Linked DNA regions of Homo sapiens. The protein of the gene in region 2 purifies or fractionates together with the protein of the main gene of each other region. This does not show direct contact. Each region holds a gene or a part of one and is shown on either strand. Other genes may lie near its edges.

Region 1 (15,164 bases), on a different chromosome or scaffold from region 2:
CATTAATGTTAAAAAACACATGTATCATGAGTTCATGGATACTTCCAGAACTTAAGAAAACATTTATATACTCAGCCTGACAGCCAACACACTTTTTTAATTTAACGGGGAAATATGAGAGGCAGTACCATTAATTCAGAATATAGACAAGAATGACCACTATCTTTACTACTATTTACCATATTATTAGAGGTATTAGCCATGCATTCAAAGAAGAGGAAGAAAATAGAGCCTTAGAATTAGAAAGGAAGAGGTAAAAATCAATTTGAAAATTATGTATGCTCTATTTGATATAGTGTGATATAATTAAATATCTGGAAAACACAAAATAATTGATGAAAACACTACACAAGCAATAAAATAATTTTATAAGACAATAGCTTATAAAACTACAATTACAACAATTAATAACCTTTATATATACAAACAAAAAAGTTGGAAAATGAAATGTAATTCATGATAGCAAAAAAAAAATACCTAGGCATAAGCTTAATAAGAAAAATTCTTGTATTTATTGTCAACTGATTTTTAATAAAGATACAAAGACAATGCAATGCAGAAAGAATCATCTTTTTGAGAAATGGTCCTGTGAGTGTGAAGAGACCACCTCTGGATTGGGAGAAAATATTTGCAAGTCATATATCTGATTAAAGGTTAGAAGAAACTATCATCAGAGCCTACAGACAGACAGCCTACAGAATGGGAGAAAATTTTTGCAATCTATCGATCTGACAAAGGTCTAATATCCACAGCCTACACGGAACTTAAACAACTTTACAAGAAAAAAAAAAACCATTAAAAAGTGGGCAAAGGACATGAACAGACACTTCTCAAAAGAAGACATACAGGTGGCTAACAAACATGAAAGAAAGCTCAACATCACTGATCATTAGAGAAACGCAAATCAAAACCACAATGAGATACCACCTCATGCCAGTCAGAATGGCTCTTATTTAAAAGTCAAAAACCAACAGATGCTGGTAAAGTTGTGGAGAAAAAGGAACACTTTTACACTGTTGGAGGGAGTGTAAATTAGTTTAACCATTGTGGAAGACAGTGTGGCGATTCCTCAAAGATCTAGAGACAGAAATACCATTTGACGCAGCAATCCCGTTACTGGGTATATACCCAAAGGAATATAAATCATTCCATTATAAAGATACATGAACATGTATGTTCATTGCTGCACTATTCACAATAGCAAAGACATGAAATCCACCTAAATATCCATCAATGATAAACTGGATAAAGAAAATGTGGTACATATACACCATAGAATACTATGCAGCCATTAAAAGGAACAAGATCATGTCCTTTGCAGGGATGTGGATGTATCTGGAAGCTGTTATCCTCAGCAAACTAATGCAGGAACAGAAAACCAAATACCACATGTTCTCACTTCTAACAGGGAGAAAGAATAGCTAATGGATGCTGGGCTCAGTGTCTAGGTTATAGAATGGTCTGTACGGTAAACCACCATGGCACATGCTTTACCTATGTAACAAACCTGCACATCCTGCACATGTATCCCTGAACTTAAAATAAAAGTTGAAGAAAAAAAAAAGGTTAATATCCAAAATATAAAAATAACAAACAATAACAAGAAAACAAAAAACCTAATTTTAAAAATGGGCAAGGAACGTGTATAGACATTTCTCAAAAGAAGACATACAAAATGGCCAACAGAGATAGTAAAAAATGCTCAACATGACTAATCATTAGGGAAATATGCTCAGATTTGATACCAAAGCCTGAACCTTAGAAGATATTAATGGGCTGGGTGCAGTGGCTCAAGCCTGCTATCCCAGCACTTTGGGAGGCCGAGGTGGGCGGATCATGAGGTCAGGAGATCGAGACCATCCTGGCCAACATGGTGAAACCCCGTCTATGCTAAAAAAAAAATACAAAAATACAAAAATTATCTGGGCTTGGTGGCACGTGCCTGTAATCCCAGCTACTCAGGAGGCTGAGGCAGGAGAATCACTTGAACCAAGGACTCAGAGGTTACAGTGAGCCAAGGTCGCGCCACTGTACTCCAGCCTGGCAACAGAGATTGACTCATCACAAAAAAAAAAAGAAAAAAAAAAAGAAATATTAATGATAAGCTGAACTCCAATCACCCTATGAAAGATCCCACAAAACTATTGAGATACTAATTCACATTCACTAGGATAGCAAAAATCTAAAAAGACTAGAATAAGTATAGCTACGATGTAGAGAATTGGAACCCTCATGCATTGCTGTGGTATTGTAATATGGTACGGCTGATTTGGAAAACAATTTAGTATTTCCTCAAAACGATAAACACAAAGGTACTAGTAATACATGACCCAGCAATTCCACTCCTAGGTATATACCCAAAAGAAATGAAGATATATATCCACACAAAAACTTGTTCCACACAAAATGTTCATAGTAACATTCATAAGAGCCAAAAAGTCAAATACAAATGTTTGTTAACTAATTAATGAATAAACAAAGTCTAACGTACCCATACAATGGAATGTTACTTAGCCAAAAATGGAATGAAGTATTGATTCATGCTACAAATTGAATGTAACTTAAAATTGTTAGGCAAAGTGAAAGAATCATGTTTCAAAAGGCCACATGTTATATGATGCCATTTATATGAAATGTCCAGAATGCGCAAGTTCACAGAGACAGACAACAGAATATTTATTTCTATGAGTTGGGGAAGAGAGGCATGGGGAGTGATTGTTAATGAGTATAGAATTTCTTTTGGGGTGTTATAAATGTTCTAAAATTAGACAGTGGAGGTGTCTACACAACTCTGTGAATACACTAAAACCAATGAATTGTACTTTAAATATGCAGATTTTATGGTATTAAATTATATCTTTTAAAAATTATTATATATGTTCTAAAAAGACTAATAACAAAATTAAAAGAAACCACAGACTATGAGGAAATGTCCACGTATCATATATTTGATAAATTAAGGACTTGTAAGCCAGAGATTATTAAGAACTCATTTAACTCAATAAAATGAGAAGACAAGACAGACAACCCAAATTAAAAATGAGCAAATGATTTGTATACATTTCACCAAACAAAGTCAAACAAATGGCCAATAAGCACATAAAAAAAGCTCAACCTAATTAGATATTATGGAAATGCAAATTAAAACCACCATGAGATGCCACTTTGTACCTACAAAAATGGCTATAATCATAAAGACACAATCCTGGATGTTGGTGAGGATTTGAAGACACTAGTTTTAAACATTCCTGGTGGGAATATAAAATGTCACGTTGGAAAACAGTTTGACTGTTTCTTACAAAGCTAACTATTGATTTTTCATATGGCCCAGCAATTTCTAGCCTAGGAATCTCCCCAACAGAAATGAAAACATATGTGAACACAAAGATCTTTATTTACATGTTCAGAGCAACATTATTCCTAACAGCCAAGAAGTGGGAACAATCCAAATGTCCCTCAACTGGTGAACCTAGAAATAAAATAGGTCTTTTCCATGCAATGGAATAGTATTCGGCAATAAAAAAATTAAGTATCAATACATACTACAACAGATGAACCTCAAGAACACCATGCTAAGTGCAAGACGCCAGACACAAAATACTACATGTATTATGATTCCATTTATATAAGATGTAGAAAGAAAAACTTATAAAGACAGAAAACAACTCAGTGGTGCCTAGGATTGGGAATATTAATAGACATGAGGAAACTTCTTAGGGTCATGGAAATATTCTAAAACTGGATTGTGGCGATGCATAACGCTAGAAATTTACTAAAAGTCAATGAATTATAAAATTACAGTGTGTACATTTTACGGCATGTAAATTGTAGTTTGACAAAGCTGTTAAAAATAAGCCAGTTATGTGATCTTGTTAAAAACTGGAGGAAAAAAATGAAACAAGCCAATAATTAAGAGCATTAGGTATAGATTCAGAGCTTTCCAAAAAGCATCTTCAGAAAATATCATTTGGTAATACTCGTACCTCACTCAAAAAAAAAAAAAAACCAGAAAAATGTAAATGGAGAAAAAAAGGGAAACTTTTCTAAAAGTTAGTCCAAATATTTACCTTACAAAGTCTAAAAAGGTGATAGAGGAGGAATACTGATCAACTACATCATTTATCTTCTCAAATACCACATTTATTACACAATATCAAAATGCTTATGCATCTAACAATGGATAATGTTAGAATGGAAGATGAAAATACGGGCATCCTCTCCATCTGGTATATTGTTTTATTTTGTCCTGGCATTTGAGTTTTAATTTATGTTTTGCTACTGTATTCCCAAATTCTCTTTCCTATGTGTGATTTGCCACAATATCTGTTGGGGAATAGTAACATGAGCTGAGTAAACTATTGTTTTATTTTACTTGCGTATTATAACATGTCAAAATACCAGAATTAGAGAGACCCCCCAAAATTACTAGTTCGTACTCTTTACTGGAGAGACTTTCTCTCCTTTCGTGTGCACAAAACTACAAGATACCAATTTACTTTCAAAGGAAACCAAAGGGAGATTATCAATGAGGTTTGGTTTGACTCACCTTACGCATGGCACAAAGAAAAGGACATTTCACTTTCGAGGATGGTTATAAACACACACATTATTGGAGTCATTAAATCATTGATTTGATGGCCAAGACTGGAAATGCAAGTGAGACAACATTTAAAAGAATGGACGATTTTCATAATCATATGAGTAACACTGGTAGTTGTTTTTTGCTAAAAGCAGCAATGCCATGGCAACGATCATCTTAAGGAGAAGAAAATCTGCCGAAGAAGAGGATGCTGTTGGATTCATTGTGCCTGATGAAGAACAGGAAGGGATGATTGCAGTGAACATTTTCATGACCTGGGGCGGATGTGACAGTAAAGCCTATGCCGGTGGCAGCTGCAGCCTCGGTGCCTTCCTCAGTTACTGCCACAAAGGAACTGTGCAGGAACTTCTGGGCGTACAACCCGGAGCCTGACGACATTCCCGAGTAGTCGGCTTTGTGCTCACTGAAGGCATCGCCCATCCCCATGGCAGCCAGGACCGCCTCTAGATCGTAACCGTCCTCCACCTCAAACCGGGGCAAGTGCAGATTCACCTTTCTTTCTTCCATATGCCCTGGACTAGTCCACTCTACCAATTTCTCAGGACTTATTTTATCTATTATCTATTTTCAAAAAAAGAAGAGTAGAATGGCATGATTATCAATAAAAATCTAAAACAGTGTAACACTGATTTGTGTCAGTCAGAAGTTATTAATTTTAGTAATATTAAAAGTAGAAATTTTATTTCACTAGATTGTTGTCTTTATACTGCAGGCGGTTGTCTTATATCTCTCTGTTTAAATTATCTGTGTATATGTGGAAATCCAATAGCATTGAATACATTTTTAAAGATTAAAAATAAGTCATTTCTTATTTTATCAACCTAGTATATATTTCATTTTAACTATCTCTCCTAGTCTTTGAATGCATATATATTTACATAGTTGCAATCACAGTGAATGTCCATTTTATTTGATAAAAAGTAAACTTTTTCACAATATTGCATATCTCTCCTATCTTCAAACAGCTAGATAATATTCTTATGAAGTTGATAAATTTTTCCCAATATTTAGCTATTCATTCACTTTACAAACATTTAGTCTTTATCAGGCATTGTGATAGATTTGATAGTTACTAAGGATACAAAATAATAATTACGATGAATTTCAAACTGGGCATTCCAGTGTATTTAATACCGAAATAACTGATTTTACTCAGAAAGGCAACTTTTTTCTTCTGCATTATTTCTTTAGAGTAATTCCCACAACTGGGGTTTTTGAATCAGAAATACTCTTAAAGCTCTCAGACATATTGCTATTTTGCTGTCTCAAAATATTTTCCAACTTAAAATGCTACTAGCAATATTTCACAGAAGTAGCACAGCATCTGGTAGTATAAGACGATAGCAGTTATCATTTGAGTGCTTTCTATGTCCTAGACCCCTTCTAGGCTACGTTTCTCTAATCATTCCAACACTGCTGCACGTTAACCACCATGGAGCCCTCTTCAGAGATGGGAAAGTATTGAAGTTCAAGGAAGTTAAGAAGCTTCAAGGGTCAGAAAGCCACTAGAGGAACAGGGATTTGAAACAAAACTCTCCTCATTTTCAAAATACAGGACACTAGCCACAATTTATTTATTTATTTATTTATTTATTTATTTATTTATTTATTTATTTAATTTTGAGACAGAGTCTCGTTCTGTCACCCAGGCGGAGTGCAGTGGCGCTATCTCGGCTCACTGCAAGCTCCACCTCCCAGGTTCACGCCATTCTCCTGTCTCAGCCTCCCGAGTAGCTGGGACTACAGGCGCCCACAACCACGCCAGGCTAATTTTTTGTATTTTTAGTAGAGACGGGGTTTCACCGTGTTAGCCAGGATGGTCTCGATCTCCTGACCTCGTGATCCGCCCGCCTCAGCCTCCTAAAGTGCTGGGATTACAGGCGTGAGCCACCACGCCCGGCCTTCACATAATTTTTTTAACCACAGAATGGATGAGACTAAATCAATGGTGTAAGAGTGTAAGAAAGAAATTCAAAAGCTCCAAAAGCCTATTGAACAGTGTGCAGAACTGGTTGTATATATGCATATGTGATTTCTTTTTTCCAGGAAAGGGGTCCATAGATACCAACCATTTCTCAGAATGGTGGGTGATCGTTAGGACTCCCATATAATCTTAAATGTTCATTTTAGTTCATCCCAAACATTCTAGGATTAGTTGTTCTCAATAAACCTGACCCATACTATTTAATGCTCCCCAGTAGACATCCATCTGTAGCTGCTGGAGAGTGAGAAACACTTTCTATTTGACACTGCTGGCCACCAGCTCCTACTCAGAAGCCCTGAGACAAAAAGCCTTAGGAAATGAAAGAAAGAATAAGGAGGTGTAAGCGTTTACCTTCTCCAGGCCATCGATGTCGTTGGGCAGAAGCACAAACATGCTTAGGTCGTTGTTTTTATATGGAATCCCTAGAATTTTGGCCTGCAAGTCCTCCAGGAAAGTGAAGCTAAAGGAATGGCTCTGTGTCATCATCTGTACAGATTTACTTGTGCTCTGCAACAAATTAACAGAGCACACAATATCAAAGGACATAAGACCAAAGGCATTAAGGCAACCAAGTTAGTTCATCAAAATAATTAGCTCAATCTAAAATAAAACCCAATATCAGAGTCTCAGAATGAGCATCCACTATCTACCAGTATGCATTTGCTCAAATATGACTTTAGATTTTTTTGGGGGGGTGGGGGATGGAGTCTCACTCTGTCACCAGGCTGGAGTGCAGTGGCATGATCTTGGCTCACTGCAACCTCTGCCTCCCGGGTTCAAGCAATTGTCCTGCCTCAGCCTCCCAAGTAGCTGGGACTACCGGCGTGCACCACCACACCCAGCTAATTTTTATGTTTTTAGTAGATACGGGGTTTCACCATGTTGGCAAGGATAGTCTCGATCCCTTGATCTCATGATCCACCCACCTTGGCCTCCCAAAGTGCTGGGATTACAGGTGTCAGCCACCACGCCCAGCCATGACTTTAGACTTTACATTCCATGTGTAAGCACATCACGAAAATAAACTAAGGGCCATACCTTATTCATCCAAAATTTCTCTTCCTTAGTATTTTCTTTCTTAAACTCCCTGTCCCATTGCCCTTTAAAATAAACCATGTTCACCAGCACCAGCTTGGTAGAGCTACTAATAGAGCCATCTGGGAACAAGTCCTTGATTTTTTCTGCAAATGAAGAAACAGAAAAAGGTTGACCCATCTTCCAAATGACAAATAATATGTATGACAAATATGATGCAGATGGACTTGACTGATCATTAAAAACCCAGCCAGGTCAGCACCTGAGGGCCTTGCTGACAAAGGGTTTGCTGGCAGAATCGACGGGGAGGTTCTCATTTTGCCCATCGCCTATTTATCCCAGTGGATAAATTAAGGTTCATGGTTAAGAGTCCAGACTCTGGGGTCAGATGCCTCTGTTAGCATCCAGTTTGCCTCTTATCAGCTGAGGAATCTTGGGCAAGTTATTTAAACTCTCTGTGCCTCAGTTTCCACATCTGTAAAATAGGAATAAAATCTGCCTCATAGGGTTGTTGAAAGGAACAAATGATTTAACACATGTAAAGCTATTAGAATACCATCTCACACATAATAAGCACTCTGTGTTAGCTATTATGCTTACCATTCAATATAGTTACCACCTGAGATTAAGGGATTACTTATTATATTGGAGAAGGAGTTGATATTTTTGTCTCTGAGTTCACCCCATCCCACAATAAATTCTAAAAAATACTGTTCAACTTTTTGAAAGATCCTATTTTTTCTGTTTCTTTTATTTCCTTTCTTCAGACCAAGCATGAGGGGAAAAAAAAAACACATTCTGAATAACAAAGTTCTCTCTGATAATTGGTATAAAAATGGAATCTGAAACTCTAACACTAAAGTATCAGCTATTGCTCCCCAAGGTGAATTTCCACATTAACATTTCTCTGTGGATTTCCCATACCAGGGGATGAGAAAGGAATAATGGGATAAGAAACTTGTCAAATCCTCTGCTGTGGGGAGAGCTGTAGGTTGTCGTTACCCCTGCACTATGCTTAAGTGAAGATGAAGACTAGGTGGCCCCAGCTGTGGATGGGAACGACAAGTCTTGATGGGAGAGCTGCGTGTTTCTCATTTAACACAGACAGAGAAAAACTCAGGAAGAAAGGCTCTGATATAAAGGAAAGAATGTAAACCCAAGACAGGCATCATCCTATTTTCAGGACCCCCAAGATATTGTGATCCATGGCTATGTGTAAACAGTTCTCCAGCAAGCGTTTCCGTGCATTTGGCTTCATGCAGTCCCCTCACTGGCTCCCCTTGGCCGCTCCACATTTGCTGAAATTGCTCCACCATCTGCAGTGCCTTCCCTACCTCCTAGGCCTGGGCTTGCCCTTCCAACCCTGCAAAACCTATCTCAAGTCCCTTCCCAAAGCTTGTGCACTGCATGGCACCCCACGCAGTGACAAGTCCAGGGCTTCATTCACAGCAGGTTGTCAAGAAGTGTTTTTTGTTTGTTTGTTTCTTTGTTTTTGTTTTTTTGCAATGAATGACCCACCCATACTCTACCATTTGTTTTGCTTTCAACCCAGGAATTAATCTTCTTTCGACTTTCATCGGCTGCATTTACAAAATCAACAGGTTCCAGAGATGCATGATAATATTTTTCAACATAATCTAAGTATTTCTTTAGGAGAAACAAGGAAGGAATAAAAAGAGGTTAAAAACTCAATTTATCAATTGCCAACATCTCTAAATAAATTTATGTATACATTAGGATGACTAATACAGTAAGAGAAATTTTAAGGCCCTGGGCATCTCACATTGAGTTCCTGCTGCACATTTTTATGCAGCTATTCTGGGGATGAGGCAAAAATCAGGTTCAGATTGCCAGGACTAAAAAGGAACTCCCTGCAGTTCTGAATATCTGTAGATCAGGATGGAAAAGCACCACAGGGATGTGGCCAGAGCCAGGCAGCACGACTTCAGGACCCATAGTCCTACCAGGGCCATTTGGCCATTCCAGAATACCACTCACAGATATGGTAGGCATGGCAAACTTACTTGAAGGAAGAGGTATGTTTTTTCTCCAAACAGCCTGTTGGTTATGTTCAGTTCATAATCATTAGTGAGTTTGCTTATTTCAGTCAAAAACTTTTGGAATTGTTGATGTACTGCTTCTGTGTTCTCAATCTTGAAAATTAAAACAAAATCTCAACAGGTTATCTTGGCAAAAGCAAGCCCAGATTCTCCCCTAAGAGGATGCGGCTGCTGGGTCTCTCCCTCCGTTTGTCAGCCTCAAGGGTGATCCCTGTGTTTGATGTGGCCCCTGGATATCAGGTAGCCTTTACCCAAGTCATATGATAATGTCAGTTATGACCAATCTCAGCTCCAGAGAGAAGCCTTCTCTGCCAGCCCAACACCACAGATCTTGCATTTATAACTCAAGTTGTGGGCTTTTTTGGTCTCAAATAAAAGTGCTCACTAAATGTTCAATAAGCTTGTTTTTAGCTCCCCACAAGATTCTAAGCATCTAAGGAAAGTAAGTGATTTCTCCGGACGATTCTTATCTATTGAAGTTTGGAAATTTTTCCAGATAGTGAATAAGAAGAGTGACTCCTAATGGTATGAGTCACTACACATTGGGCTGAAGTGAGATTTATCCTTGTCTCCAGGGGAAAAAAAAAATTTTCTGAATATTTTATGTAGGACCCATCAGTTTTCTGATTGAAGTTTTCATATTCTATGTTACCTTAACGACATATCTAGAATGTCATTATTTCAACATATAAATACAATAAATATTAATTACATATTAATATATAAGATACATATTTCAGCAAAAATAATACATGAAAATTAATATTTTGTATTCCTTTCTCATACTAAGTTCTTAAAATATAATATGCATTTTATACCTATAGCACATCTGGATTCAAACTAGATGTATTGCAAGTGTTCAATAGCCACTTGAGTAGCTACTATACTGGATAGCTTGGGACTGGATAAACTCTCACCCAGGCAAATTAGGAGGCTGGCATTAAAAAGGCCATTTTTGCATTGTTTGTAGAAGGAAGGAAGGAAGGAAAGAAAAAAGGAAGGAAGGAGGGAAGGAAGGAAGGAAGGAAGGAAAGAAAAAAGGAAGGAAGGAGGGAAGGAAGGAAGGAAGGAAGGCCGGCCCCATCAACAAAATAAATGAGGAAATAGCTATAAAAATGAATCAAATAGAGCTATAAGTATCCCCTTAAAATAGATGAATCTTATAAACATGATGCTAAGCCAAAAATAATCAAGTTCCAAAGAAGAATGACAAAAATATATGGCATGTAATGAAATAATAAATACGTGGGAATAATGAACACCTAATCCACAATAGTGGGACTTCCTCTCTGAGGAGAGGATGGGGGCGTGCTCAAGGAAGGTGTTATACATCAGCCTAAGGGGCATCAGCTGATTTGGTAATAGTTTATTTTGTACACTTAAAGGAGGGGTTAAAGTGTGTTTATTGCATTTTTCCTTATACCTTTTGTACATATGTCTTGAGATTTTATCAGCATTTTTTAAAAGCAAGATTCAAAATACTCTGAATTTACATAATAATCAAACGGGTACATGCCAAGCCAGTCTCTGGGCAAACTATTAAATGAGGAGATTGGAGTAGATGACCTCTAAGATGTATTCCAGTGCTAATATCCTTTCAGTCAGTAATTCTATTCTCTTCATACCCCTGTGGCTCCCAGGAAAATTCTGGGGAATGGGCAAAACTGCTAGACAGCATGTATGTGTAAGCTTTGCCTTACACAAAGCTGAAATTCAGTTTCCACCCCAGTCATCTAGCCCTTCACATAGGAGTAGGGCAGCTATCCAAAAGAATGAGCTGTTTTCTAATTTGCACAAAGGTTCTACATGGGCTATCATGGCTGAGAAAGAATGTGCTCTGAAGACAACTGCACTTCTCAGTTGAGGGAACATTGCAGTGGCCATATGACCCAACTTGGTTGCGCAAACCCTGAAAGGAAGCCTGACCCTCCACAGGAGCAACTGAGCCACCCACACGACCTAGCCTTTTGGGGTTGTGAAATGAGCAGCTCCTATTGCTGGGTGATCTGAGCCATGGTTTTATGAGGGTCTGGAATTGCACTATGACTACTGTCAGAGCAGCTGTGCCCTTCCTGAGAGTGCTAACGTCTGATCCTAGCCCCGACCTAATGGGCTTATTCCTTTCCCATATTTGAGTAGACTCTCCTTTGGATGGCGAATACAGGAACACTGGAGCTGGAAAAGACCTCAGGAAGTCATTGGGCCTGTAATAATTTTTTAAATACAACATCAGCACGGGGTTAAAAATATGAGTGGAGTTTAGCAATAATATCACCTACTGCTACTACCACCACCACCACTGGCTCAGTTGCCAGATGCCCCTACTGCGGACTTTACAGAGGCTGAAAGAAGATAAATAACTTGCCCAAAGTAGCATCGCTCTTAAGTGACTGAGCCAGGACTTGGACCTAAGTCTGTTTAACTCCAAAACCCATCCACTCTGCTATGGGAACTTTTCTGTCTATTAGCCTTTACCAGTTCTATCATAGCGGTATTGTCCATTACACCTAAGGTCTCTTCTCAATATTAAGGGGTTATTATTATTGTATAATCCTTACAACAATATTTGTCTATGGTGATTATTATTGCTTAATAGTAAAGCAACAATATTGCTTTCATGCCTTTCTCAGTCCTTTTCCCCAGAGACCCCACACCTAAAATGCAACTCTACTGAAGTTTGTAAAACACATCTCCCCACCTCTTTTCCTTCAGCCTTTATTCTTACCACCTCTTTTTCTTCAGCCTTTATTCTTGAGCTCTTCGTCTCTTTTTCAGAGTGAAACACCTGGAAGAGATAGAAAATATTACTGTGGTGCTCAGAGAAGAGAAAACCTCACACAGAATCAGTCAGGGGAGAGTGGACGCTTCTGAAAGAAACCTCGGTGGTATATGAGGTGACATTATCTCCTTGCAAAATCAGAAAAAGGTCTGCGTTTACCTCTGATTTTTCGTGTGTGTGTGTGTGTGTGTGTGTGTGTGTGTGTGTGTGATGGAGTTTTGCTCTTTTGGCCAGGTTGGAGTGAAGTGGCATGATCTTGGCTCACTGAAACCTCTGTTCCTGGATTCAAGCGATTCTTCTGCCTCAGCCTTCCGAGTAGCTGGGATTATAAGCACCTGCCACCACACCCAGCTAAGCTCATGCCTGTAATCCCAGCACTTTGGGAGGCCAAGGCGTGTGGATCACCTGAGGTCAGGAGTTCAAGACTAGCCTGGCCAACATGGTGAATCCCCTTCTTTACTAAAAATACCTCTAATTTTTTTCTAAGGAACTCGTATTGGCTTATGTGTTCCTGTGTTCATCTTGGATGTGTCATTTTTACCCTTGTGGGGATTATGTCACTTTTTCCATAAGTACTTGGACAAGGTTACGCAACCAGTCTCTACTCAAAAAAATTTCAAGCATCTGGGAGCAGGTGGCGAGATGGTATTTGGAAAAGGAAGAGGGCTTTCCTGATAGACCTGAAATTGCTCCTTGTCTTGAAAGTCTCTGTTTCCTGGTCCACAGGTCAAGAAGAGCGTATTTTTAAGATAATGCAAGAGGGCTGACAACCCCCCCGCCAAATGAATTTGTGCATAGGAAACAAGGAAGCCCCCTGACTGCGCCCAACCTCCTCCAACTGGGAAGCGGTGGCTCCTCGGGTCCCCAGGAGGACCATGCCAATTGCAGTCAAGATGCCCACAGGGGAAAAGAAGATGTTGCCATCATTTGTTTTCTTCAGCTCTTTGAAAAGATCAAACCCAAGTCGAGTGCTGACGGCGCCAAGTGAATCCATGATGATTTTAGCGAGACCTAGAATAGCAAGAACAACAATCAAAACTGAACATTTGAATTACTCTGTGTCAGGGGAATCCTTTCTGCTTCTATTCCTCTTCTTGCATCGATCCGGAATACAGGGATTTCCACCCTTTTGGTGAAAGGTCGCTGCTGCCTGCTTCTCACGTCCTCTCTTGGCCTTCTCTTGCTGGGAGACATCCATCAATCTACTGGAGTCTTCCGTCATCCGGTGGTGCTCAGTTCTTATTTCCCCGCGGAGCAGGGTTAATGTTTTAATGGCTTTATTCTCTTGCTCTCTGTCTGACCCTGCCTGTCTCTGCCTCTCCACAGCCTCCTCTTCATGGAAGCTTCCCCAGGTAGACCCAGCCCTTGTCCAGGCGACACCAGTTTGTCCAGATGTGGGGCCCATGATAAGGCAGGGGGGTAGGCACAAGAATCTCCACGGGCCTCAAGTTCAAACAGTGCTCTCAGATCCAACCTTAGCAATAATTAAGCCGAGACTTGAATCCTTATCTGATACTATTTCTCAATTGATTCAAAATTCAGCCCAGAGAGTGACAGGATTGATTAAATCTCTTAAACCCCTTTCCCTAACTGCATACAAACTTGACTCTGGGCTGAATTTTTCTGAAGCAGAAACCACATATCTCTGGTCATGAATTATTAGGTGGAGATGAAAGGGTTTTCTTTTTTATACTTTTCTGTATTGTTTTAGGCTTGTACATGAGCTTGCATTACTTTTGTCATTTCACAAAAATAGTTTTTAAAGAGCAATTAATATTTGCCAAAAATAAATAGGTAGAACTGTTTTTATGTTTGCTTCATTACCAACTACTTTAAAACTAGTAAGTAAAGGCTTTAGGAGGAATCCTAAAACAAGAATAAGATTAATGAAAAATAAAGTTTTTTAAAGCCCACATACTTTGGGGCCTTTTGCCCTCAAGGGCTCATCCCCGCTAAGGCATCCCACATCTGATATCAAAGCTTTCATTTCAACCTCAGGTTTCCTTGCAGAGATCCTTTACAGGTTAACTCAGAAATAAAATGGATTAATTTACTGTCAAAGAAGATACATTGTCATGGCCATGTTGGAACTGAATTAAATAAAACTACCTCCAGAAAGTCTATGCAAAATAAAAGTAATTCTTTCAAACAACAAACATCATTGTTCTCAAAATACAGAGGTCTTAAATTGGAGCCAAAATAAGAACTTACCTCGGGTTTTTGGAGAGACGGTGGTGGCTGGGCAACGAACTAGGAAGCATAAGTCAATTAAGTAGCTGGGATCCTTAATTTATAGTTCTCCACATCTGCTTCAGCAGTGGTTTTCCACCTTGCGTGCACCTTAAAATCTCCTTGGAACTTTAAAAAAAATCTATGCCCAAGCCCCACCCCAGACCAACTGAGTCAGCATCTCTCGAGTGGAAACCAGGCATCAGAATTTTTATCACCGCAGGTGATTACAATGTACAGCCAACGCTGGGAACCAAAGGTGTATAGCCTGATGAACACATACATTAAATGCATACTTTACTTACCACAGATGGACAGAGCTGTGTCCTGACAAGTCATTCTCTGTAACAGAGTTATTTTTGCATTTGCATTATTTAGGAGTGCCAAATGCCAGGAAGAAAATGAAAGAAAACTATCTTGCTACAAAGGAACAAGAAAAAAGAACAAGAAAAGTTTGGGTAGGCAGCCACACACAAG
Region 2 (15,164 bases):
GCTCCACACCCATGCTGTGACAGGAACCCTATTAGTTTGTACTGGGCTTGTTTTAGGGTTGTTACATTTAGAGGATGTTTAAAGTGTTATTTTATATAATAAGACGTGGCATGAGTGCACACACACATACGCATATAACAAACCCAAGCTGCATATTTTGGCGTGTGCTTATCAAGCTGTAACATGCATTAGAATCACTTCCAGGGCTTGTTAAAACGTGACAAGCCAGAGTTTCTAGCCAGAGTTTCTGATTCCATAGGATTTCTAACAAGCTCCCAAGTGATGCTGGGGCGTGGGTATGGCAGGTGGGGTGGGGAGAGAGAACTGCAAATGAATCTTAACTAAAACATTTTTAAGCAGGTTTGTTTATTTTATGGGTATGGGCAAAGCAATTTTGAAATGATTTTAGATGTATTACAGGATTGAGCAAATGAGTAAATGTGTGTGTGAGAGAGACAGAGAGAGAGAAAGAGAGAGAGAGAGAGGTAGATTACTGGGTACCAGAGTTCCCACTGTGCAGGAAAAGACATATAAATAGGGAATGGGGGAAGGCAGGGAAAAATCCTCTGAGGATATATTGCAATTGGAGGTGGAGGTACTGGTATGAACTAATGATTTTAGAAATACGTACATGAGCACGTATATAAGCATGTTTATGCGTACATGGATATTATGTATGTATGATGTGTATACACATATTTGTATGTGTGTGTAAATAAATGTATATGTATCTGTTTCCTGGCTTTGTCTGAGAGGGTAGAAAACCAAAAGTCACCCTAAAGCCATGAGCACACTTAGTGCCTAGGCTGTCTTGGACTCTAACATGTTTCCCCACCAGGATAAACCAGGGCTCATCAAAGAAGTGGCACATTCTAGGATTGGGGCAGAATATGTACCAAATGAGCTTGGAACATCTTATGATGCCAGAAAGTTAAAAAAAAATGTAAGCATTGTCATAGGGACACAGGAGTCAGAGGGAAAGGGCTCTCGTCAGTGAAATCTGGGACAATTTGAGCACCAAAATAGTTAAGTACAGTAATGAATTGTAAGCCACTGGAAAAAAAAGGAATGCCTGAGTCCACTCCAATCATAAATGGATAATGAGAGAGAAGGAAGGCTCTTGCAAATATCCTCTCTCTCTATCTATATGTTGAATAAATGAATGCTATTCATGATATATTTGGGAAAGGACAGGGATGATGGAATTACCAGAGATTTTTTATTGTCTCCATTATTCTTTTATGTGTTTTCAAATACTCCACCATAAATTTAATAATGGGATTTTTTAGTTTGAAAAGTTACAAAGTAGTAGTATGTACCATCCCATAGGGAAAAGATTGGAAGGATACACACACACACACACACACACACACACACACACACACACACAGAGGGTTATCTGTGTGGGGTGCTGTGGGTGATTCTTTTATTTTTTTTCTTTATTAGTGTTTTACCCTGCAGCTCCAGCTCAAAGGATGTATATAATACTAATAATTTGCAACAAGAAATGAAGTTATTTATTTATTTATTTATTTATTTTTTGAGACAGAGTTTCGCTCTTGTTGCCCAAGCTGGAGTGCAATGGCTTGATCTTGGCTCATTGCAACCTCCGCCTCCAGGGTTCAAGTGATTCTCCTGCCTCAGCCTCCCAAATAGCTGGGACTACAGGCAAGCGCCACCATGCCCAGCTAATTTTGTATTTTTAGTAGAGACGGGGTTTCACCATGTTGCTTAGGCTGGTCTTGAAATCCTGACCTCACGTGATCCTCCCACCTCGCCCTCCCAAAGTGCTGGGATAACAGGCGTGAGCCACCGCACCTGGCCAGAAGTTACCTTTTAAAAAAGCATTGAAATTAAAACATAAATTAAGAAATAAGATACAAGGTGCTTGAACATGGTAAGTATCAAACAAATGTTAAAAAAAATTTACTAAGGCTATGTCATGACAAAAGCAGAATTCAAAAAAGTATATATAAGCGGTACAATAATTAACTTTTTGGAAAAAATCTCCACCCTTGTGTTGAGGGTAGTGCTCCAAAATGATATTGTAGTTGTGTCTGAGTGTATTTATTACTTTAAAAGAGGAAACTGTATGGTAGATATAATGTTTTATAAGCTTGCATTTTGAACATCTTTCACACATTGAATTGTCTTTCATAAAAGAGCTAGAATAAGAGGTTGAGGTGGGCAGATCACCTGAGGTCAGGAGTTCAAGACCAGCCTGGCTAACATGGCGAAACTCTGTCTCTACTGAAAATACAAATTGTAGCCTGGTGCAGTGGTACACACCTGTAATCCCAGCTACTCGGGAGGCTGAGGCAGGAGAATCACTTGAACCCAGGAGGCGGAGGTTGTAGTGAGCTGAGATTGCGCCACTGCACTCCAGCCTGGGTGACAGAGCAAGACTGTCTAAAAAAAAAAAAAAAGAGCTAGAATAAGCTAGAATAAGGGGACCACCACTGAAGCACTTGGGAGCATTTTCAACCTACGCAGAGGGGTGGTCACCCTGTACTACTTCTCTTTTAATTTCATTACTCAGATAATTGCACTGGGCAGCATCTTCTAGGGAGGCAATTTTCTGGCCAAATAATTAAAAGAAGTAAGAGCCATTTAGTACTTTCCCTAGAAAGTTATCTTTTGGGAGATGGGAGAGGCCCTTGATTATTTTTAAAGAGGAACACACACACACACACACACACACACACACACACACACACTCTTAAAGAGCCATAGACTATCTCTTAAGAATATACAAGAAACTGGTAACAGGGGTTTCTTCTAAGGGAGGGGGACTTGGGGACTTAGGGAATATGATTGGGAGGAAAACTTGTTTTTTTCTGTATACATTTTCATGCTGTTCAAATTAAAATAATGATGTGCATTTAGTATATGTTCAAAATATTTATTAATTAAAAACAATTCTTTAAAAAAGTCTGTTGCTTATGGAACAACTGTGAAAATAACTAGATCGGAGGAAAGTAAAATGTGTTTTCTTATGAAAATATGCTTGCCATTAAACTGATTAGTTTCCATCACAGATAGATTTGTAAGTGACTCAAACCAAGACTTTCCAACATTTGTCTGCCCCACCTACATGTCTGTGCTTCTGTCTACTCTGCTGTTCTCTTTGTTTATAGATAGACAGCTCTTGAGCTACCATTACTGGGGAGTTACTTTTGTTTCTCTAACAGCAGGGATGGATTTGGGCTAACCCCTTCCACTGGTTCTTCAGGGCTCCTTGTACCCAGGGAAGTGGCTGGATGGAATGTGAGTAACCATCACTGCCCACCAACACCGGGAAGTGAAAACTGGACCCAAAGGACCCACAATCTTCACCTCATTAGCATCGTGCTCACATCATGTCTCTCTCAGTAAGTAACAGGTTCCGGTGAGGCAGAAACAATCTAACTGATTGGATGCCTCAAATCTGTACAGAAGCCAGAGAGCCCACCTATCGTAGGAATGTATTTGAGAGGGTGAACTATTCTGAAACATTCCATCTTTATATTGACATCCACATAACCACTCTGCAGCTAAAGGTATATCCAAGCACCCAGCTTCCCATGCCAGAAGCAAGGAGCCTGTTCCATTTCCATTTTCACTCTCCACCATGTCTACTCGACTTTAGAAATAGCTCTCAAATTTTGCCACCCATTTTCTCCACCTTTGCTGACAATGACATATAATCAGACCCTCAGAATCTATTGCCACTTCTAGCTAGTCCCTTGCGACTTTTCCTCCCATTATCTTCCTCTCCAGCATGCTTTCAAAAGCACAAATCTGACCATTTCATTCCACAACAGGTCACAACTTCCTTTGGGCTGCACCAACACACCAGGTCCTTTGTCATCTCCTTTCAGTCTCCTTTCCAGTTTTCCTGGCTGCTCCCACAGAACTTTATTTCTACCCAGATCAGAGACTTTGTCGGTATTTATTTTCCTGCATGCTTCCTCCCTGTGAGCTCCTTCAGGATACAATAAACACCTCATTCCTCTTTCGTGCCCCTGTACTCAGCCTAGTGCCTGGCACATAGGAGGCACCCGATCAGTGTTTGGGCGAATGAAGGAAAACAGACCTTTTGAGTGATGTAACATGGCCATCAGTGGTGCTTCTCAGACTTTAATGGACACAAGAATTTCCTGGGGGTCTTGCTGAAATGCAGATTCAGGTTCAGTAGGTGTGGGGTGGAACCTGAGGGTCTACAGTTCTTACAAGTTCCCAGGTGAGGTCGATGTTGCTGTTTAGGGAGCCACACTTTGAGTAGTGAGGACCTATAGAACATTAATAACTTTTTTAGATGGAGGAGCATGTTGAATCAATTATTCCTCTAAGGATCTTGAAGTTTTGAGTGAACTTTTGATTTCAAAAAGATCAAAAGAAGTAAAAGATTTTATAAACACACACAAACACACAGTTATACAGAGTAAGCTACAGAGCTATAGGTTATTCCAGAAGTAAGTAGGAAAAGGGAGTAAAAATAAGAGTCATCTACCCTTAAATTCTCAATACCATTATTCTAATTTGCCACTTGAATTTATATTAGAATCACCGGGGAAACTTTTTAAGCAGCACATATTCTCCCCCCTTCTCTCCCTCCAATCTGATTTGCTCTTCTAGAGGAATAGGACACCCTCAGTCCATGGCTCCCTACCACTGAAAACCACAGCTTTGGAGAATGCTTTTGTAATTGATGGCAATGTTTTGTGTCACTCAGCTGTGCTGGGAAAGAAACAAGCTTTTAGCTTCATAGTAATTCTGATCTAAGAGCTCTTCTACAAAAGGAGTTTAGCCAGGGCCCCCACGCATGCTGTTGTTCCCTCTTCCTGGAAACTTCTTCCTCCATTTCTGTCCCAAGTCCTACTCATCCTCCAGATCTTCAAAATTGTCCCTTCATCACACCTTAAACTCCTCCTTCCTGGAAAACACACACACACACACACACACACACACACACACACACACAAAAAAACATGTAAAGTTATTTGTTCTCTTCCCTGCTAGACTGTGAGTTCCAAAGAAAAATTGTGTTGTACATTCCATTCCCGGTCCTGAGCACGGAACTTGCTACAGCAGGTGCTCAAATGAGTGAAAAAATTAACTCTTTTTTCCATATTTAATGAAATTCCCTCTTTTACTTATTTTATCCTCCCGTCCAAAAATGGCTGAATGTAATTCCTATGAGAGCTGATATTTAGTATGGGGCTAGAACCTGCTTAAATGACAATAGAGTATGTCTTGAGGTTTGTTTGGTCTGAATTGCTTGGGTTGAGGAATCAGACAAAAACAATGTTTCTACCTCCTCAATGTTAAAAATAAATAATAATCACTGCCTACCAAACAATATGTATCATATATGTAAGATATGAAGCACAAAAACAAAATGAACATCTATGAGTCCACCACTCAATAAAAGAACTAGAACATTAGTTGCCTTGTGAAGCTACAGGGTGTTCTTGCCTCTTATCTCCCTGCCTTCCCCTATCCTCTAAATTTATGTTTATTACTCATTTTTTTAAAAATAGTTTTTATATATCATGATTTATTTATGCATTCCTTGTCAGTGAACGTTTAGGCTTTTTCAGTTTTTCTGCTCTTAGGAACAATGCTGCCAAGAACAGTCTTTGCATGTCTCTAAGAGCATTTATGAATTTACCTATAATATATGCCAAAGGGTAGAATTGCTAGATATATGTAGGTCCAGGTTGAGAAGATGATGCCAAGTCATTGACACTATGTTTTTGTAGTGAAGGTGCCAATTTACTTTCGTTTCCACCAGTAGTGGCTAAGAGTTCCTAATGACCCATATCCTTGCTAACAGCTTGTCTTACTAGAACACAAGCAATGGAATCTCAAGCTGCAGCACTTTGGGGCCAGAAGGCAGAGCTCCTGCCTGGATAGGTTATTTCCTCCTGACCACCTGACAAGGGACTGGCCCCCTGAGGCTTACACTTTGTTGAGACCTGAAACTGCAGACAGAGCACTAAACTTAGAAGAGACTAGGGCCCCAACTAAGCTTCCCCATGGATAGATACATAGTCATCATAGAAGGCAATCAATCATAGAATGTGACACCTGGAAGGGACCCTAAAGCCAAATCCTTCATTCTACATTTATTGAGACTGAGGCCCAGAAAGGTTAAATTACTTGACAATGTCTAAGAGCTAATTACTACAGAAATCTTCCTCTGGGGCACTTTATTCTTAATCCAGAGAGGGTTTTCTTTTTTTTTTTTTTGTAACTGAAGATGGTGTAATACGATCCATTACATTAATAATGACTGTAAATATTCAAATAACTGACTAGTTTATTTAATTAATTAATTTATTTTGAGCTGGAGTCTCGCTGTCGCCCAGGCTGGAGTGCAGTGGTGTGATCTAGGCTCACTGCAACCTCCGCCTCCCAGGTTCAAGTGATTCCCCTACCTCAGCCTCCCGAGTAGCTGGGACTACAGGTGCAGGCCACCACACCCGGCTAATATTTTTTTTTTGTATTTTAGTACAGACAGGGTTTCACCCTGTTGGCCAGGATGGTCTCGATCTCCTGACCTTGTGATCTGCCCGCCTCGGCCTCCCAAAGTGCTGGGACTACAGGCGTGAGCCACCGTGCCTGGCCGACCAGTTTATTTAAAAAAAAAACTTGTTTAACTTAAGTGGCATGAATTTGATAACTTTCATTTCTTTGGTTATAAAGACGGGTGATATTATTCGATGGGATAAAGAAACCAAAATTATAGTTTCAATATGCAAATTTAACTCTCCTAAGAGACACTGGTCTCCTGGGGGATAAACAGTCCCCAATTATCTGATTGATCATTCTTGTCCTTGGATCATTCCCCATACCCACCAGGCAAATACTAGGTGCCTCCTTAAAAAGCCATTTTTGTAAGGAAAACTTTAAATTCATTAAATTTAAAATCATCTTCCCCTTAGGAGCACTCATAATTAGGCTATACTAAGACTCTGGGAACGATCTATGGAGATATGGCAAACTAGCCTCCGTGACTTGACGGTTTCTAATCCACATGCGAATGTGGAAAAATGCCAAAAAGAGACCAATCTTCAGCAGAGGTACTTAGCGCTCTCCAGAGTATGCATAATAACCGAGTGTGGTATATAAGTCTAGGGCAGAGGCATCTGTCTCCATCCATCAGACAGTAAATGTGGAGCTGGGGAGGAAAAGGAGTGCTTCCTAACAGGATGGGTGTTGGTGTGAACAAAGGGGGCTTTTGAAGCCTGTAGTGGAAATTTTCCTTCTGGAGCTGTGTCCTTCAGGAATTCTCTTCCTCCCTATCCCTTCCCATCTGCCTGGTCCTCTCTACACCAAGTCCTCTTTTACCATTTAAACAAATCTTTTGGTTTAACAACGTCTGCAGGCAGATGCTAAAAGCTTTCTGTGAGGCAGCCCTTTTTTAATGTCAGGATGAAACTCAGGAGCTGTTTATTACTCTGGGGTGGGGGGCTTGGAGGGAAAGAACACCAAGTAATTTTGTGCAGGAATGCTGACCAAACAGTACTGAGGTACTTCTGGTTCCAGTTTTCCTCCTAGCAGTCATTTTAATCAGCACTTCCCCCTTTTAATGAGCTGGTAGTGCCATTACATAATCACCCAGCTCACTGGATTAATGATGAAAAGAGGAACTGATTTTTCCAGTTGCATCATTTGAAGTAAATGTTAACTTTCTTTCTGAGTCCTTAGTTAACCGCATTAGTGTGACAAATATGTCTTTGTCTAGCATAAGTAATTAGAATTTAATCACTTTAACTGCATCTTAATTACCCCAAATGAATTGAAAGGACATTTAATAGCAAAGATTAAATTGCCTTAATGAACGATTTTTGTGACTCCATCAATACTCGAATCGCTTTAGCCACTCCTCTCACGCACTTCAGTCGCAGAATCTGCAGCGAGCACAGAGGTCACTAGGTGGCGCGCTTCGCTCGTTTGTTTATTTAATTTTCCCCATTGATCTGTTTTAGAAGACAACAGGAAAGAAAGCAAAAAGCACATAGTTTATTGCGTTCCTTCGATAACCTCTCTTTGGGACTATGAGATCATCACCAGATGTGAAAACGAAAGCAGTGATTTCAGAAACCGTCGATTCTGAATATCCCGTGGCGGCATATGCAAAGGAAGATGAGAAACACATGGTGACTGGAAACATGCAGTGTTTGACAGAAATTGCAAGATGCCCTCTAGACAACTCCCAGCCTATATACTCTGTTTTGGTCAATTTATTACTTTTTAGTGCAGAGCCCTAAAATTTGAGTTACAGGCAATCTTTGAAATAGCAAGGCAGGCACTGATGTGGAGCCAAGAAGTGTAATTGCTGTCCAAGTGCAGATCAGAATGCCAATGCCTGAAGGTATGGGAAGATCTGAGCCCTTGGGCCCCCCTCAAGGCAAGGGACCGAATGGACCAGCCCCACCCACAGGCACATCTAATGAGATAGGTCTTGTCCATCAATAATTGTTTAAGTGAACAAAGGGATGGGAGGCTGGGGTTTCACATCTACTTCTGGCACTTCCTCACATTTTCTGGCTGCTTCTTCAAAAAAGAGTAATAAAAAATCTCTTTTACAAGTCTTGAGTATAAAAGAAATAAGTTTTCATAAGTGACTCTTTTTGAGAGTCCCAAAGGAAAGACACACTTTCTCTAATTTCAAGAGCTTATTATGTAGAGACTTTTGAATCAGTTATTTCCACATTCTGACTCCACTAACCTGGTGCACCTGTCCTGGCAACAGAAGCATGGGATGGAGGATAAAATGTTCTGGGCTTTGGACTGGGAAAGCTGAGCTCAGGGCATCACTGTTTTCCAGTGGTGTTATCACAAGTAAATTATTTAACCTCACTGAAGAGAGCAACAGGGAAAAAAGTGGTAAATACCACTTAGACTAATGGTTCCCAAACTTGGCTGCACATCAAAATCACCTGGGAGTTTATAAAAATCCAATGCCCATGTCACGTCCTGTACCAATTACATCAAAATATCTGAAGCTGCAGCTAGGCATCAGTTTTTTTAAAGGTCTCTAAGTGATTCCAATGTATAGCAAGATTTGGGAACCACTGGTATAAATGTTGAGTCTTCAATGAGAACATCTATGTTCCGATCACAGTACCCAACAAATAGAATGTGCACAAAAAACTTAAGCTTCTTCCTTATCAGTTACTATGACAAATGAGATTGGTTGTACTTTAGGGTCTAGTTCTGTCCAGCTGTTGTCTTATTAAATTGCCTCATCTAAAAGAGAAGAAAATTTCTTTTTTTCTTCAACTTTTATTTTGAGTTCCAGGGTACATGTGCAGGATGTGCAGGTTTTTTACACACGTAAACATGTGCCGTGGTGGTTTGCTGCACAGATCAACCCATCATCTTGGTACTAAGCCCAGCATCTATTAGCTATTAAGAAAAGAAAATTTCTAGAAATTAATTTGTTACAATTTTATGATACCGTAACATCTCTTGGAAGAGACATATGTGGATGCTTCTATAGCAAGACCCTGTGATAAGTAATTTTTATGTTTGTATCAAAATAATCAGATTGTCTTGTGATTGGTCTAGTCACCTAGCCCAATCTTATTATCTCAGGAGGAAATTAAACTTCGTTAGTATTAACATACTTGTATTAAAATAAGAACCTATACAAACCTATTGATAGAAGGTAGGAATTTATGATTGTGCACTAAATCCATTCACATAAGAAATATTTTTCTTTTTACTGGACTCTATGAGACTGACATTTTTTATGTAGAAATAATGTGGCTTTCTTCTCCCAAAGATGCTTATCCATCTTATTCAAATAGAGACACAATGAGAGTATTATTTAATAAATATTTGTTAAATGTTTTCTCCAGCATTATAAGAAATGCACCCTCTAACAACCACAACTTCAGTAACACCTTCCTTCTGTTGCTACCCTAGGTTGGGGGCCATTCAATTTTACCAAGAGTGTGGAAATTCTGCTGTTTTAATGGGGACTGAAAGGAAACTAGTCATTTCTCATTCAAACCATCAAGGCTCCTAGATTGATTTAAAATATTAAGTCGGTGTTTAAATATTCCAATAAATGGACTTTACAAAGAGCACAAGCAATGTCACTTGAGGAACAAGGCCTCAAGCTGAGGAGCAGGATATTGGAGAGCCTCCTTCTTAATTACCCACCTTTATTAGACTTGAGGATTTTCTGTCTTACAAGAAAATCAGAAATAAATTTTATTGGTATGCTCTGTAAGAACGATTTCTTCTGATAACTTGGGGTAGCAGCATTTGTTTGATTAGCTGAATTTGCCATGAATGTGGAAATAATGACATCAAAACAGCTCGTGTAACAACCTCCTTAAAGACCTCGTAGATTAGAGATGACTATAGATTTTCCCCAGCGCGGATCAAAGGGACTGAATTGAACGTTTTAGCTTAATGATCCAACCCCTGTCACACCCACAGGGACGCGAATTCCGATTTTATAAGCAGGTGTGCACGTGCACTCAGATACTCACACAAAGCCGCGTGGAGGGACGAAAAGATCAACCACCCGATCGACGAGGATAGGTTTGATCTTTTCGATTACCTCAGTGTGCCAGTGTATATTCCCGGCTGGGCCTAGCGCCCTAAGAAACTTCGGAACTTTAGCTGTTAATTTTTGTTTTCTTACTATGACTTCCCAAAGACATTCTATCTGCCTACCGGGGCGAAGAGAAATGGGACCAGGCGTCAGGGCGGTGGGACCCTGTCCAGGGTCCTGACTCCGCGCCAGGGCTCCAGACCAGTCGGCCTCCGAAGGCCCTTTCACCCACCCCACACAAGAGGAAACAAAGACTTCTCAGCTCAAGGCCTCAGGGCTGCCTCCTGACTCCGGTCAGTTTGCAGGAAGAGGAAACAACAAAACAAAGGAACCGCCAATCCGCCGGGTATTATATCCCTCAGCTCCAACCTCCGACTTCGGACCGCCAGGGTCACCTTCTCTACGCTGACCCCGCTTTTCTTAAATGAAAACACGCCAACAAAAGCATACTTCGGATACAAAATCCAAGTACGCATCTTTTTTGGGGAGGTTAGAGCTGAGGTGTACTTCGGAAGATGAGAATTTTGTTTTCATGAATTGGGTAACACCCAGGCATTGTTAGGTACCCCGACAGACCCTCTAGATATCCTTCTCTTCCTCCTTCACACTTTCTTCCTATCAAAATAGTTATTGTTTTGAAATTCACTAGAACAACGACGTTCTAAAAACAAAGGCGCAGCAAGCATCCCTTTCTTCGCTGCCGCGGGCTGAACCACGGACGCTCGCGGGTCGCCCAGCCCCGACGGCCCGCAGGGGGCGCGCGCCGCAGCCGCAGCACAGCCCGGCTACCCCCAGAAAGGGAGCCGAATGGAGGGAAGCAGGGAGCGCGGAGGGCTCGAGGCTTGCAGATAAGGAGAGGCGCATCCTGGGATTTGGGTCCTCTGCTGCTACAACACAACCGTGCTATTGTTGGCACTGTCCGACCCAAGTGTCGGTGGTAAGCGGCGATGTCGGGGCTGGGTCTCTAGCAACCGCTGTGCCCTGGGTCAGGCTGGTCGCCCCAGCTACCGGGATCCCTCTCCGGATGCTTCCAGGGCGATAGGTGCTGCACCCATTGACGGGATAGCCGCATACCTCCGAACAGGTAGTGGAGTTCGTCTCTGGCAGGCATCCTAGCTGCGCTGACACCAAGGTCGCCACACAATAGCCATCAGCCCCCCTTAAGCCCCAGAAGTAGGTTTCCCCTGCCCCAGCCATAGCGGTTCCAGTCGTCGCCACGAGCCCACTTCTTATCCCCAAGCGCACCTCCCTCTCCTCACCCGGGTTTATGCCCGTTACACAGAGAGAACTACACAGGGGGAACTATGGTCCTACACCCTCGAGGGGACAGACACCGGCCGTGAGACAGGCACCACGCAGAGCCTTCTGGTGACTGTCCGCAGGAGCGAGACCTTTTTTGGTTTTGCAGTCGGCTAGGTGTGTGTGTGTGAGGGTCCCCAGTTGACTACCGGGATGCACTGCCACTTTTCGGCCTGGCGGGCTCTGGGACTCCTTGGTCTCCGTAGGAGGCCATCCTAGGCCTTCGGAGGAGGCGCTCCCAGCTGGCGGCGCCCCTCGCCCCGGGCTCAGAGGCGGACACGGTCGGTCGCGCCCTGCTGGCCCTTTGTTCGCGCCGCAGCGGGCTGGGAGCAGCTGCGCGACACCAGACCCACAGCGCCAAGACGCGAAGCGCGAGGAAACCGCTGCGCTTGACTCCTTCTCCCCCAACTCTTGGACCCAGGAACGCTTCCAGCTCCTGCGTCCCACACGCCCAGTCCTGGCTTCTCTCCCGGCCCAGAAGTCTTCAAGGATTGAAGGGCTCTGCCTAGGGCCCCGCACTCCTGCCTGACTCCCATGGCCCAGAAAAGCAGGGGGACATTTGAAATGTCACCCCGGGATAAATATTAACAAAAAAGCAAATGGACTTGTGCAGGGGCCAGTTATCAATCAACCAGGCCGCAAGGCCACTCAGGGCAAACACAGCCCAGGTTGGGCTGGGCGAGACTTTCTCATGGCCGCCCCCCGACCGAACCCCTCCCCCCTTGGCTCAGGTCCTTCTTAGGTCGTTCTGGGGCAAACACCGGACGGGAAGGGGGCGCCGCCAACTCCCCCGCGGGGTTTGGAGGTTTCCTCGCCTCCAAGTCCCGCAGGGCAGGGTCGGAGTGCCCAACACCCACCCCCGCCCGAACCTCGGGCCTGCGCGCCGCCTTCCCCTGGGTCCGCGGTGCTGCGCTTGCTGTTGGGTGTGTGTCGCTGTCTCTTTCCGAGCCGGCAGCTCCTGCTGTGTGGCCGAAGCCCTCTGGAATCTTTAATTGGAAACTAATCTTGGTCTTGATAGACGCCCACGTCAGAGGCGCGCCACCCACCCACACCCCCCGCCTCATCCCGGAGGAGACGCGGCGAGAACCCTGTCGCTCTGCTCTTTAATGGGGCAGCAGCAAGTAGTACATGGAGGGAACATATATTGATTTTTAAAAGGTAGTTAATTTGGTGGGAATTTCCTCCTGTCGCCCTTCTTCCACCAGCCGCTGTTATTTCGTGACCGGAAGGCGCCTCCCCAAACACAGCGCCACGTGCAAGAGGGTTTTGACCCTCTGCAACAGGCTGCCGGCAACTGGAGGACAGAGGGGCGTGGAGAAGCCACCACTCTCCCGCTGCGGAGCGAAGGAACCGAGCTCAGTGAGCCCTGACCTCGCAAGGTGGTTGGAACGAGACTGGGGAGGGTCTCTGAGCGCAACAGCAAGGAAAGCTGCCAGGGGCACCTCCCCATATGGGAGCTGGTAGTGGGGGGCAGGCACTAATGTCCCGTAGGAACGGCCAAGGCGCTCTGCAATCCATTTTAAGGCTCATGCACTTGGCCCGTTAGAGATCATTTGGAAAGTTCAGAAAATAACCCCACTCTTTTTAAAATATGAAAATGTTAATGAGATGGCTCCTTCTTCAGTAACTTAAAAATAGGTTGTGAAGAGACTGTTCCTGGTTCCTTGCAGGAGACCCTCCTGGACCAACACAGAATCCTCAGTCCTAGCCCTTTCCACCATCCCTTTTAAGTTAAGGAAACAAAAATGTAATAGACATGCTTCCTCAGGGTCTCAGGACACAGAGTCGGCTTGGTGTTTGGTGCCAAATGCCTGCCCTGCTGGACTCTCCAGTGTTTCACTTTTTCGAGGAAAAGGCCATGGGCCTAGGGCCGAGGGCTGCATGGACCTCTACAGGTTGCTGGGTGCCCAGGCAGGCGCTCCTTCGATAGCCTCCTGGGTGCCACAAGCACCTGCCAGGCACCATGTTTGCGCCTCCAGCGTGCGGGTCCCAGCACTCAGGCTCCCTCCCCCTCCACAGTGCCGTCCCCTGAGCTCGGCTATGTAGCTCTCCACGCTTGGAGGTCAGAGGGCGCTCCTGCGGCCAGGTTTCCATGGCTCAGAGGTCGTCTCTGAACAGAACGTGTCAGTCTGTCCTTCCAGGGGGCGACAGCAGGCAGTGGGGGGAGGAGGGATATTGAAGTCCAGAGCAAGAGCCTCCAGGGGGCGGGGGTGGGGGATGGGGACCGAGTTTTCCCGGAGGGGTAGCCTTCTCCATTTCTATCTTCTTCCCACATTCCCCCGCTCCACTCTTTGGCTTCAGCGGGCACTGCCTGGGTAAGAGGCCCTGAAGCCTGGCTCTGGGGTGGTGTGGGTGTGTGAAAAGGCACTACCTTGGGCTCTGGAGAGACGGAGCAGTCAGGACGAGGAGCAGCCCCTTCGCCCACTCCCTCCGGAACCTCAGTTGCTCGCGGGCAGCCCACGGGTGGAGATATGGTGCCGGTAGCACAAGAGCTAGAGAGTGGAAAACCGGGGGCCAGCGATTCGCTGGGGCGCCCAGCGAGCCTCTTCTCCCCTGACTGGTTCCCGGGCGCAGGCTGCAGGAACCTGCATGAGGACTTTGCCTGGGGCGAACGAAGGCAGAGCTGGGCTGGAAAACCTGGCAGGGCAGAGTCTCAGCCAGCGCGGTGCTTTGGGACCGGTGGCCTGCAGCGCCCAAACCCAAAGAACGCTTTGGGTCGCTTCGGGGCACGAATCGCAGGCTGGTCGGCACCTGCCACCCCCAGCTTCTCATTGGCAGGCACGAGTTGGAGGAGGGGGCTTTGGCCTCACGCTTTGATTTTAGACTGTGAAACGGCTCAGTGCCCCCGGCTCAGAGCGGATTGACTGTCTCTCGTTCTCCAGGGACGAATTAATGGAGAACGATCAGTTAATTAACAAACCCTCATTCCGGCTTTTACCTTTTCTCTTCGCCAAGGCTCAGGCCTGGGCGCTGGGCTGAGATGGAGGTGGAGGTGGGGGGTGGGGGAGTGGGGGGGGAGGGGGCATGGACCAGGAGTCAATCAACTTGGCAACCGCCGGCCGGATCTCATCAAACCCAGGCCACCCTCCGCTGTCCTTAGCTCTACCTCCCCTCATGTTCTCTACCCTCAAGGGTCGCCGAATCCTCCTGAAATCCCCGGTGGGGTTCGGGCTGGGCTCAGCTTTCTTCTCTGCCTATCCGCGGTCTCGGGGAGCCAGGCGCGGTGTCTGCGCTGCGCCAAGGAGAGCTTCCAGCTGAACTCAGAAACACCTGGGGCTTGGGGTTTCGGGCAGGAGACCTCTGC

The links.
Region 1: the proteins of ONECUT1 (region 2) and SERPINB13 purify together in Homo sapiens (affinity purification with mass spectrometry; 2 studies listed by BioGRID and IntAct, with this or other methods). This does not show direct contact.

The regions. Positions count from the first base shown.
Region 1 is NC_000018.10:63,586,956-63,602,119, reverse strand, and holds SERPINB13 (serpin B13), read right to left. Parts: upstream 14,778-15,164; 5' UTR 14,670-14,777; intron 13,470-14,669; 5' UTR 13,453-13,469; coding exon 13,288-13,452; intron 12,465-13,287; coding exon 12,405-12,464; coding exon of another isoform or gene 12,378-12,404; intron 9,773-12,377; coding exon 9,644-9,772; intron 9,267-9,643; coding exon 9,149-9,266; intron 8,095-9,148; exon of another isoform or gene 7,946-8,094; coding exon of another isoform or gene 7,882-7,945; intron 7,766-7,881; coding exon 7,623-7,765; intron 7,092-7,622; coding exon 6,936-7,091; intron 5,162-6,935; coding exon 4,757-5,161; 3' UTR 2,928-4,756; downstream 1-2,927. UniProt on the Homo sapiens protein: May play a role in the proliferation or differentiation of keratinocytes.
Region 2 is NC_000015.10:52,772,776-52,787,939, forward strand, and holds part of ONECUT1 (hepatocyte nuclear factor 6), read right to left. Parts: intron 8,110-15,164; exon of another isoform or gene 7,821-8,109; intron 1-7,820. UniProt on the Homo sapiens protein: Transcriptional activator. Binds the consensus sequence 5'-DHWATTGAYTWWD-3' on a variety of gene promoters such as those of HNF3B and TTR. Important for liver genes transcription.